Homo sapiens: one gene and its partner. The protein of the gene in region 2 interacts with the protein of the main gene of each other region in a pairwise test. Each region holds a gene or a part of one and is shown on either strand. Other genes may lie near its edges.

Region 1 (3,899 bases), on a different chromosome or scaffold from region 2:
TAAATGACATTTCTTTCATTAAAAATTTTTTTTCTGATGGACCAAATATCATAAAAAAAAAGAATTATTGTATGATTCATTTACAGTATAGTTATTTAAAATTATACACAGCATCGTGGGAAAAGCACTGAATTGAAAGTCAACAGACTCAGTTACTATTCCCAGCTTTTCCTCTATCGGGTGGTGTGGTCTTAGGCAAATCAGCTGATCTCACCTATGATAAAAGAACCTGATTGGATCAGATCATGAGAAATCAAGTTAGAGAATTCTAAATTCGATTTTAAAACAAAACTGGGACAAGAAAGTACACATTGGCCGGGCACAGTGGCTCACACCTGTAATCCCAGCACTTTGGGAGGCCAAGGCGGGCAGGTATCTTGAGCTCAGGAGTTCGAGACCAGCCTGGGCAACATAGCCCAGCCCTGTCTCTACAAAAAATACAAAAATTAGCCGGGTGTAATGGCCTGTGCCTATAGTCCCAGCTACTCAGGAGGCTAAGGGAGGAGGATCGCTTGAGCCTGGGAGGTCAGGGCTGCAGTGAGCCGTGACTGCATCACTGTACTCCATCCAGCCTGGGTGACAAAGTGAGACCCTCTCGAAAAAAAAAAAAATATATATATATATATATACATATATATATACATATTTCAAGAAATACAATTAAGTCCACATATACTGGATTACATAAACTGTAAATTATGCCCCAAAGTAATTAAGATATGGAAATTTCAGACATAATTTTGGAAGACTTGCTATCTATATAGCAAATGGGCTAAATTCTTTGATTATTTATTTCCCACAAGAGAAGCCTAGAAATTTCATTTTATCTGCAGCAGCCCTGACAATCTTTGAGCCATGTTATTTAAGAAGAAAAAAGGTAACCCATTGGTAAGGTAAAAGATGATTCCACAGTATGGCTCCCTTTCTTCTAGGATTCAGAAAATTTTGTGCATGGCCATGGTGCACTGATGCAAAGAATGCCCAGGTCAAGGCCAGATGTAATGAAGCAACAACTCACTGGTGTTGTGGGAAGTCAGGAACCCCAAATGGAGGGACCGGCTGAAGCCATGGCAGAAGAACATAAATTGTGAAAATTTCATGGACATTTATTAGTTCCCCAAATTAATACTTTTATAATTTCTTACTCCTGTCTTTACTGCAATCTCTGAACATAAATTGTGAAGATTTCATGGACACTTATCACTTCCCCAATCAATACCCTTGTGATTTCCTATGCCTGTCTTTACTTTAATCTCTTAATCCCATCATCTTTGTAAGATGAGGAGGATGTATGTCACCTCAGGGACCCTGTGATGATTGCGTTAACTGCACAAATTGTTTGTAGAGCATGTGTGTTTGAACAATATGAAATCTGGGCACCTTGAAAAAAGAACAGGATAACAGCAATGTTCAGGGAACAAGAGAGATAACCTTAAACTCTGACTGCCAGTAAGCCGGGCGGAACAGAGCCATATTTCTCTTCTTTCAAAAGCAAATGGGAGAAATATCGCTGAATTCTTTTTCTCAGCAAGGAACATCCCTGAGAAAGAGAATGCGTCCCTGAGGGTAGGCCTCTGAAATGGCCGCTTCGGGTGCGGCCGTCTTTTATGGTCACTGCTGTAGGGATGAAATAAGCCCCAGTCTCCTGTAGTGCTCCCAGGCTTATTAGGACGAGGAAATTCCCACCTAATAAATTTTGGTCAGACCAGTTGTCTGCTCTCAAACCCTGTCTCCTGATAAGATGTTATCAATGACAACGTGTGCCCGAAACTTCATTAGCACTTTTAATTTCGCCCCGGTCCTGTGGTCCTGTGATCTCGCCCTGCCTCCATTTGCCTTGTGATATCTTATTACCTTGTGAAGCATGTGATCTCTGCGACCCACACCCTATTTGTACACTCTCTCCCCTTTTGAAAATCACTAATAGAAACTTGCTGATTTTACGGCTTAGGGGGCATCACGGAACTTGCGGACATGTGATGTCTCCCCCGGACACCCAGCTTTAAAATTTCTCTCTTTTGTACTCTGTCCCTTTATTTCTCAGACCGGCCGACACTTAGGGAAAATAGAAAAGAACCTACATGAAATATCGGGGGTGAATTTTACCCGATATCTGGCTGAAATTTCCCCCAATACACTGGGAACCTTGAAAGGGTGGGCATCCAGTGATCCCATTTGTGAGCGAGTAAGGGGTAATCCCAAGGTCCCTGGAGAATCCTTAAAGCATTCCAGTTTAAACACTCAGGGCATTCCCATGGGTTCCACTTAGATTCCACAGAGCTCCTTTACATCTAGAGATATTCCTAAATATGTCAAAGGGCTTGGCTAGGTGTGAACCAAGTCTACCAAAGTGATGACTCCAATGGCCATGTCACAACCAGTGACTTCCATGAAACTTCTAGTCTACCTCGCTTCTCTCTAGTGGATGCCTATGTTGGCCCAAGAGAGACATACTCTCCGCCACATATAGTTTAATAGTTCCAGTTCATATGTTTTCAATTAATTATAAAATGGAGGTCCTCCCTTCAAAATGGATAATGTGATACCCAGGAAGATTTTGTGACTTAGGAGCAAGTCAAAAGGAAGAAAGAAGGCTTGGCAGAGGTGAGCCTAGAAAAGGAACTCAGGACATGGATGGGACCCAACAGCAATGCTGTTTCAGATGTAAGTGTACAAAGAAACTTTCATGTATTTGGACTATGAGTTTTAGTTCAAAAGGCAATTTCATATTCACTTTTTCATCTGATCCACATATTAGTTCAGTCACATAGACAGGATAGGAATTTACTGGTAATTTTATAAATAATCATGGGGTAGGTTTAGAAGTTAAATGACTTGAATCTCAGCCTTTTGACTTCAAAAACCACACTTTTCATGGAGAAGGAAGTATACAGTGAAGAAAGGCACACACTGAAGAGGCAGAGTGCTGAGTTTAAGGCTGTGGTGTGGGATCTTGGACAAGATATTTAACTTCACTAAGCTGCTATTCCCTGATGTGTATAACAGTTATAGTAACAGTACCTAAACCTCCTAGCATGGGGAGAGTTCAATGAAGTAAAGCAGTTGGTAGAACTTCTGCCTACCGATCTGGCATGTAAAGAGCTTAGAAGTTGCTACTGCCTCCTAATAAGAAACAAAAAGCTGAACAAACAGAAAATCAACAACTACTCCTAGGTCCATCAGAGAAGGAAGGTCACAGGGCAATTCACTGTCCCCAAAACCAGAGAGACAGACAGGAAGATACTGAGAGTCAAAGCGTACTAGAGCAGAAACCAATGAGCAGAGGCCTGGAAGCCAGAGGAGGGAAACCTAAACTGTAACTGACAAATTGCTAGGGGTACATGTAAATAAGTCTGAGAGTTAAAAACTCCAGGGGAACCCAGTTATAGGGCCCTGTCTCCCACACTTTTGAGAGTTTTACCTCCAGAAGCACTACCTGGTACTCACAGTGAATATCAGGGAAAAATCTCCTCATGCTTCCAGTTGGGGGAGGAGAAAAGGAACATTTTGAAATACACCAGAGCTTTCTGTTTTTCTTAACAAGCTCTGTCCTCAGAAGAAACTATTTTACTAGAGCCTGACCTCACAGGGTTTTATAGAGCTTAACCTTCCTGGGGGAAGGGAAATACCCAACTCCACTCCCCTCTAGCCATCCTGCTCCACCTAAGCTAGGGGGAAAGACCCCAAGAAGCACTGGTGAAGTTCCCAGTCCAGGGGCACAGGCTCAACAAAAGACTGAGACCTAATCATAGGACTACATAACATCCCTCACACCCCAGACACACATTGCTGCTGCTACATTACAAAAGCCTTATTTACCCAGATTTCCTTTTACCCAATGTATCATGTCCACCTTTCAACAAAGAACTACAAGTGATATGGAAGGAAAAAAACACAGT
Region 2 (5,134 bases):
CGGAAGGCTGTGACTTCAGCTACGTCTCTGAATAGATGGTATGAGGAGACAGAGGCCTGCAATACCACCTCTTCCGGCTGCCTGGCCAGGCCTGCTGGGGCCCCAGGACACTCAGCAATCATCCCTGCACAGGCTGTGCATCAGGGTCTTGGGACACAGCAGCCTGTGGCAGTATGCTCCCACTTAGGGCTTCCCCCAACTAACCCCCTTAAGCTTTGGAGCTGGAGTCAGACCAGAGTTATGTAATTGTGTGTAGCTGTGGCTAAGTTTCTGGCCTTAATTTTCTCAGGGTGGTACTACTGGCTTGTCTCTGAGCCATAATGAAAACCTAATAGTTTTAGCCAGCTAGAATGTATACTGGTGCAGGACCTTCCTATTCACAAAACACTTTCAGGCTCATAAACTCATTTGGTCCCATGAAAGCCACATGAGGGAGGAAATGCTGAACTACTGCTCCATTTTACTGGTAAGAAAGCAGCCATTCAGAGCAATTGTCCCAATGTCACACAGCAATACAGTCAGAATTACACCCTCAGTGAGTCTCTTTTGTTTTGAGACAAGAGTCTGGCTCTGTTGCCCAGACTGAAATGCAGTTGCATTATCTTGACTCAGTGCAACTTCTGCCTTCCAGGCTCAAGCGATCCTGTCACCTCAGCTTCCCGAGTAGCTGGGACTACAGACGCTCACCACCACGCGAGCATAGAGAGGGGATTTCGCCATGTTACCCAAGCTGGTCTCAAACTCCTGGGCTCAAGGGATCCACCTGCCTCGGCCTCCCAAAGTGCTGGGATTACAGGTGTGAGCCACCGCACCTGGCCCTTAGTAAGTCTCTTAATGTCTTGATACGTATCACAATCCCTTCCCAGCCTGAATCTGCCTTTCATGGCCAATGAGCCTTGGGCCACAACCTAGTTCCTTACCATCACAGGCAGAAGGCTTGGCCTGACTGTTGTTCTTAGCATGCTTCTGCCTCCCTTCCTGGCTGGCTGCCTGCTTCCTGTGACCACTTCCCACGGCTGCTCGTGGCTTCCTCATGATGGCCTGAAACAAAAAGACCCAGCCAAAGCAGTCAGTCACAATGAGGCCAAATTTTGAGGCCTTCCAAGGGTGATAGCTATCTCCCTCTCATCCACCATTCACATGGGGTCCAGCTTCTCTCAAGCACTCTCAAGATGCTCACGGGTTTACTCTTGGCTGGCTGCAGCACTGAGATACAACTAGTATAGCTGAGCAAGTGGCCTCAAGGGGGCCGGCGTTACAGCCCTGGAGACATGCAAAGACTGTGAGGCCAGGGCTGGGATGGGTCAAGGATGAAAGCCTCCTGTTTGGGAGCATTTGTGTATCTCTGATGCTTACTGTGACTGTGTGTGTGGATAGGGGTTGTTTAGGTGTGTCTGGGAGAATGGGGGTAGGCGGTTTCTCTGCCTCTTAGAGATGTAGCATGGTTACACTGAAACAGCCTGTAGTAGTCATTAAGTCCAAAACCTTCATTTTATCCTAGAAGAAACCAAGGATCAGAGGGACAAAAGATCTGTCTGAGAACAGATGGCAAATCAGTGGGAGAACAGAGATTAGCTATTTTTATTCCTAATCTAGTAAACCATAGGTGGCTGACCATCAACAATGAGAAAATGTGCCTGGTTGATTTTCACTGCTCCCTAACTGTTATAATGGCCGCCTTTTCTCTAACAGCTAAAATTAGTTGATATTTTGTGAGTGCCTACTCTATGTCAGACCCCATGAAGAGCTTTACCGGATCTCTCAATCTCCTGGTGACTCTATGAGGTATGTACTAGTATCACCTCCACCTTAGTTATAAGGAAATTGAGGTTTATGGAGATTAAGCGACTTGTTCTTTCAAATCCACGACCAGCATTCTTATACTGTGATAAAATGCAGTCCCTGCTAAGCCTCTGTATCAAACTCTCCCCCCAAACCTTTGACTTTACCACCTCATTTTCATCAAAAGAGCTTGCCTCCTCCTTCAGAAAAAAAAAAACCAACTTCAAATCTACCTCCATTTGCACTGTCTTACCCTCCTCCTCTTCAGGGTCCTGCTCCTCCAATCCCGTCTAACTGTTGGAACTCAGAAACTAATACCCCAGGCCAGGCACGGTGGCTCATGCCTGTAATCCCAACACTGCGGGAGGCTAAGGCAGGCAGATCACTTGAGGCCAGGAGTTCGAGACCAGCCTGGCCAACATGGCGAAACCCCATCTCTACTAAAAATCCAAAAAAATTAGCCAGACGTGCTCGCTTGAACCCAGGAGGCAGAGCTTGCAGTGAGCTGAGATCATGCCACTGCACAGCCTGGGCAACAAAGACAGAGCAAGACTCTGTCTCAAAAAAAAAGAAAAGAAAAGAAACCAATACCCCAAAATATGGCCCTCTGACATGCTGAACTCAAGAAGCCGCAAGGTCTCTCTGATCCTTCCACCCCAGACTCTCCCAAAGCCAGGATAAAGTTGTTCTCTGGAACTCTTTATCTGCCTAAAGTCCAAACTCACTAAAAAGAATACTTGTTTTTTCTTCCCCTCCCAATAAGACTAACATGTAACCACACCTGAACAAACCCTTTCACAGGTATTGTGTACCTCAGGATCACTCAAATTCCAAAGAGAACTATTAACAAGTCAACCTCTGTCCCCATTCCATTCTCTCTAGTAATCCTTTATTGCCCTTCAACAGAATCTCCTTCTGGCCAAAGTTCGGTTTATTTAAAAACAAATAGAGCTGGACATGCTGGCTCAGGCCTGTAATCCCAGCACTTTGGGAGGCCAAGGCAGGAGGATTACTTGAGCCCAGGAGTTCGAGATTAGGCTTGCAACATAGCAAGACCCCGTCTCTACAAAAACAGAAAAACAGAATTTCTCTTCTACCCCTTGTCAGGCCTCTGAGCCCAAGCTAAGCCATCATATCCTCAGTAACCTGCACTTATACATCCAGATGGCCTGAAGCAACTGAAGATCTACAAAAGAAGTGAAAATAGCCTTAACTGATCACATTCCACCACTGTGATTTGTTTCTGCCCCACGCTAACTGATCAATGTACTTGGTAATCTCCCCCCCACCCTTAAGAAGGTTCTTTATAATCTCCCCACCCTTGAGAATGTACTTTGTGAGATCCACCCCCTGCCCCCAAAACATTGCTCTTAACTCCAATGCCTATCCCAAAACCTATAAGAACTAATGATAATTCCACCACCCTTTGCTGACTCCTTTTTTTCAGACTCAGCCTGTCTGCACCCAGGTGAAATAAACAGCCTTGTTGCTCAGACAAAGCCTGTTTGGTGGTCTCTTCACATGGACACACGTGAGACACCCCTCCCATAATCTGTTTTGCCAGATGGTATATAAACTCACGAACTCTGTAGGGAGATGGGTAATCACTTTATGGTTCTCCCAATGTGCATGTTAATAAATTTGTATGCCTTTTCTCCAGTTAACCTGCCTTTTGTGAGCTGATTTTTCAGCAGATCTTCAGAGGGCAAAGGGAAAGATTTTCCCCTTGGCTCGTAACACAATCAAATCCCACCCTCCTTCCCTTCATAGCCAAACTTCCTTCACCAAACCTGCTTACTTCCACATTCATTCTACAATCTATTCTCCAAAGAGCAAAGGAATCTTTTCCAGATCACGTCACTTCCTTCCTTATAACCTTCAATGGTTTCCCATTCTTTTTTTTTTTTTTGGGATGGGGTCTCACTCTGTCACCCAGGCTGGAGTGCAGTGGTGTGATCTTGGCTCACTGCAACCTCTGCTTCCTCGGCTCAAGCAATCCTCCCACCCCAATACCCCACCCCAACTCCAAGCAGCTGGGACCACAGGCGCACACCACCACCACATCCAGCTAATTTTTGTATTTTTGTTAGAGACAGGGTTTCACCATGTTGCCCAGGCTAGTCTCCACCTCCAGAGCTCAAGCAATCAACCCGCCTCGGCCTCCCAAAGTGCTGGGATACAGGCATGAGCCACGGCGCCTGGTGACACCCCATTATATTCTTTTATTTTCTTTCTTTTCTCTTTTTTTCTCCCTCCCTCTTTCCTTCCTTCCTTTTTTCCTTTTTCTTTCTTTTTTAAATACTGTAGGCCTTTACTATGGGTCATTAAATTCTTGAGCAAGCTGGTTGTGGTGGCTCAACACTGTAATCCTGCTACTCTGGAGGCTGAAGTGAAGAACAGCTTGAGCCCAGAAGGTCGAGGCTGCAGTGAGCTATGATTGTGCCACTGCACTCCACCCTGGGCTCAGCAAGACCTTGTCTCTTAAAGAAAAAAAAAGATTGAGCAAATATTTATAGAGCCCCCTAATATGTGCCAAGCAGTTTTAGGCACTTGGCATACTTCAGTAAATAAAACATCAAAAGTTCCTGCCCTCAGGGAGCTTATATTCTAATGGGGACAGAAAAGGAATAATGAACATAAGTAAATTCCATAAGATGTTAGGTGATAAATATTAGCATAAAAAGCAAAAATTAGACCAAGAGGGGAAAAAAAAGAGTGCCAAGGTGGGGTTTAATGTTGCAATTTTAAAGACTGTGGTCAAGGTAGACCCAAAGCATTCTAAGTGAGTGCAAAGGCCCCAAGGAGGGTGCCTGGTATGTCTGTGGTACAGTAAGTAGGTCAATGTGGTTAGAATGGAATGAGATGGGACTGAGTGGTAGAAGAGGTCAGAGAAGTAAACCAGATGAGGTGGGGAGAGGAGGGTCACAAAGTACCTTATAGGCCATTGGAGGGATTTGGCTGCCACACCCTTGCTCTTAGAAGGCAGTCCTCTTACTACAGCCTTGCAGGTCCAGTGATCCGGGCACCATCCGCCTCATCCCCTCACTATGCTCTAGCCAAGGTTGACTGAATTTAGTTGCTTAAACACCTCAAGTGTGTCTGCCCACCTTGGGGCCTCACACAATCCATTTCCTCTGTTTGGACTCTTTTATGCTTTTACCTAACACCTTATCATTTTTCAAGTCTTGACTGAAATGTCCAAATCAGGTCCCCTCATCTTATCCTATCACATATTTCTGCCTTGTAGCTCTTACCTAATGTAATTTTACATTACTTTGATTCTTTCCATCAGTGTGTACTTCCTGAATTTGACTGTAAAAAACGACTTGAGTGCAAGGACTGATTCTCTTGT

What was found. Proteins that work in one complex are often made in the same cells at the same time.
Region 1: the proteins of MUTYH (region 2) and TDRD7 interact in a two-hybrid assay, tested with the Homo sapiens proteins (one large-scale study listed by BioGRID and IntAct).

The regions. Positions count from the first base shown.
Region 1 is NC_000009.12:97,491,425-97,495,323, reverse strand, and holds part of TDRD7 (tudor domain-containing protein 7), read right to left. Parts: intron 1-3,899. UniProt on the Homo sapiens protein: Component of specific cytoplasmic RNA granules involved in post-transcriptional regulation of specific genes: probably acts by binding to specific mRNAs and regulating their translation.
Region 2 is NC_000001.11:45,333,471-45,338,604, forward strand, and holds part of MUTYH (adenine DNA glycosylase), read right to left. Parts: exon of another isoform or gene 4,728-5,134; coding exon of another isoform or gene 4,716-4,727; intron 1,498-4,715; exon of another isoform or gene 1,357-1,497; intron 1,042-1,356; coding exon of another isoform or gene 1,036-1,041; coding exon 921-1,035; intron 164-920; exon of another isoform or gene 134-163; coding exon of another isoform or gene 92-133; coding exon 1-91. UniProt on the Homo sapiens protein: Involved in oxidative DNA damage repair. Initiates repair of A*oxoG to C*G by removing the inappropriately paired adenine base from the DNA backbone. Possesses both adenine and 2-OH-A DNA glycosylase activities.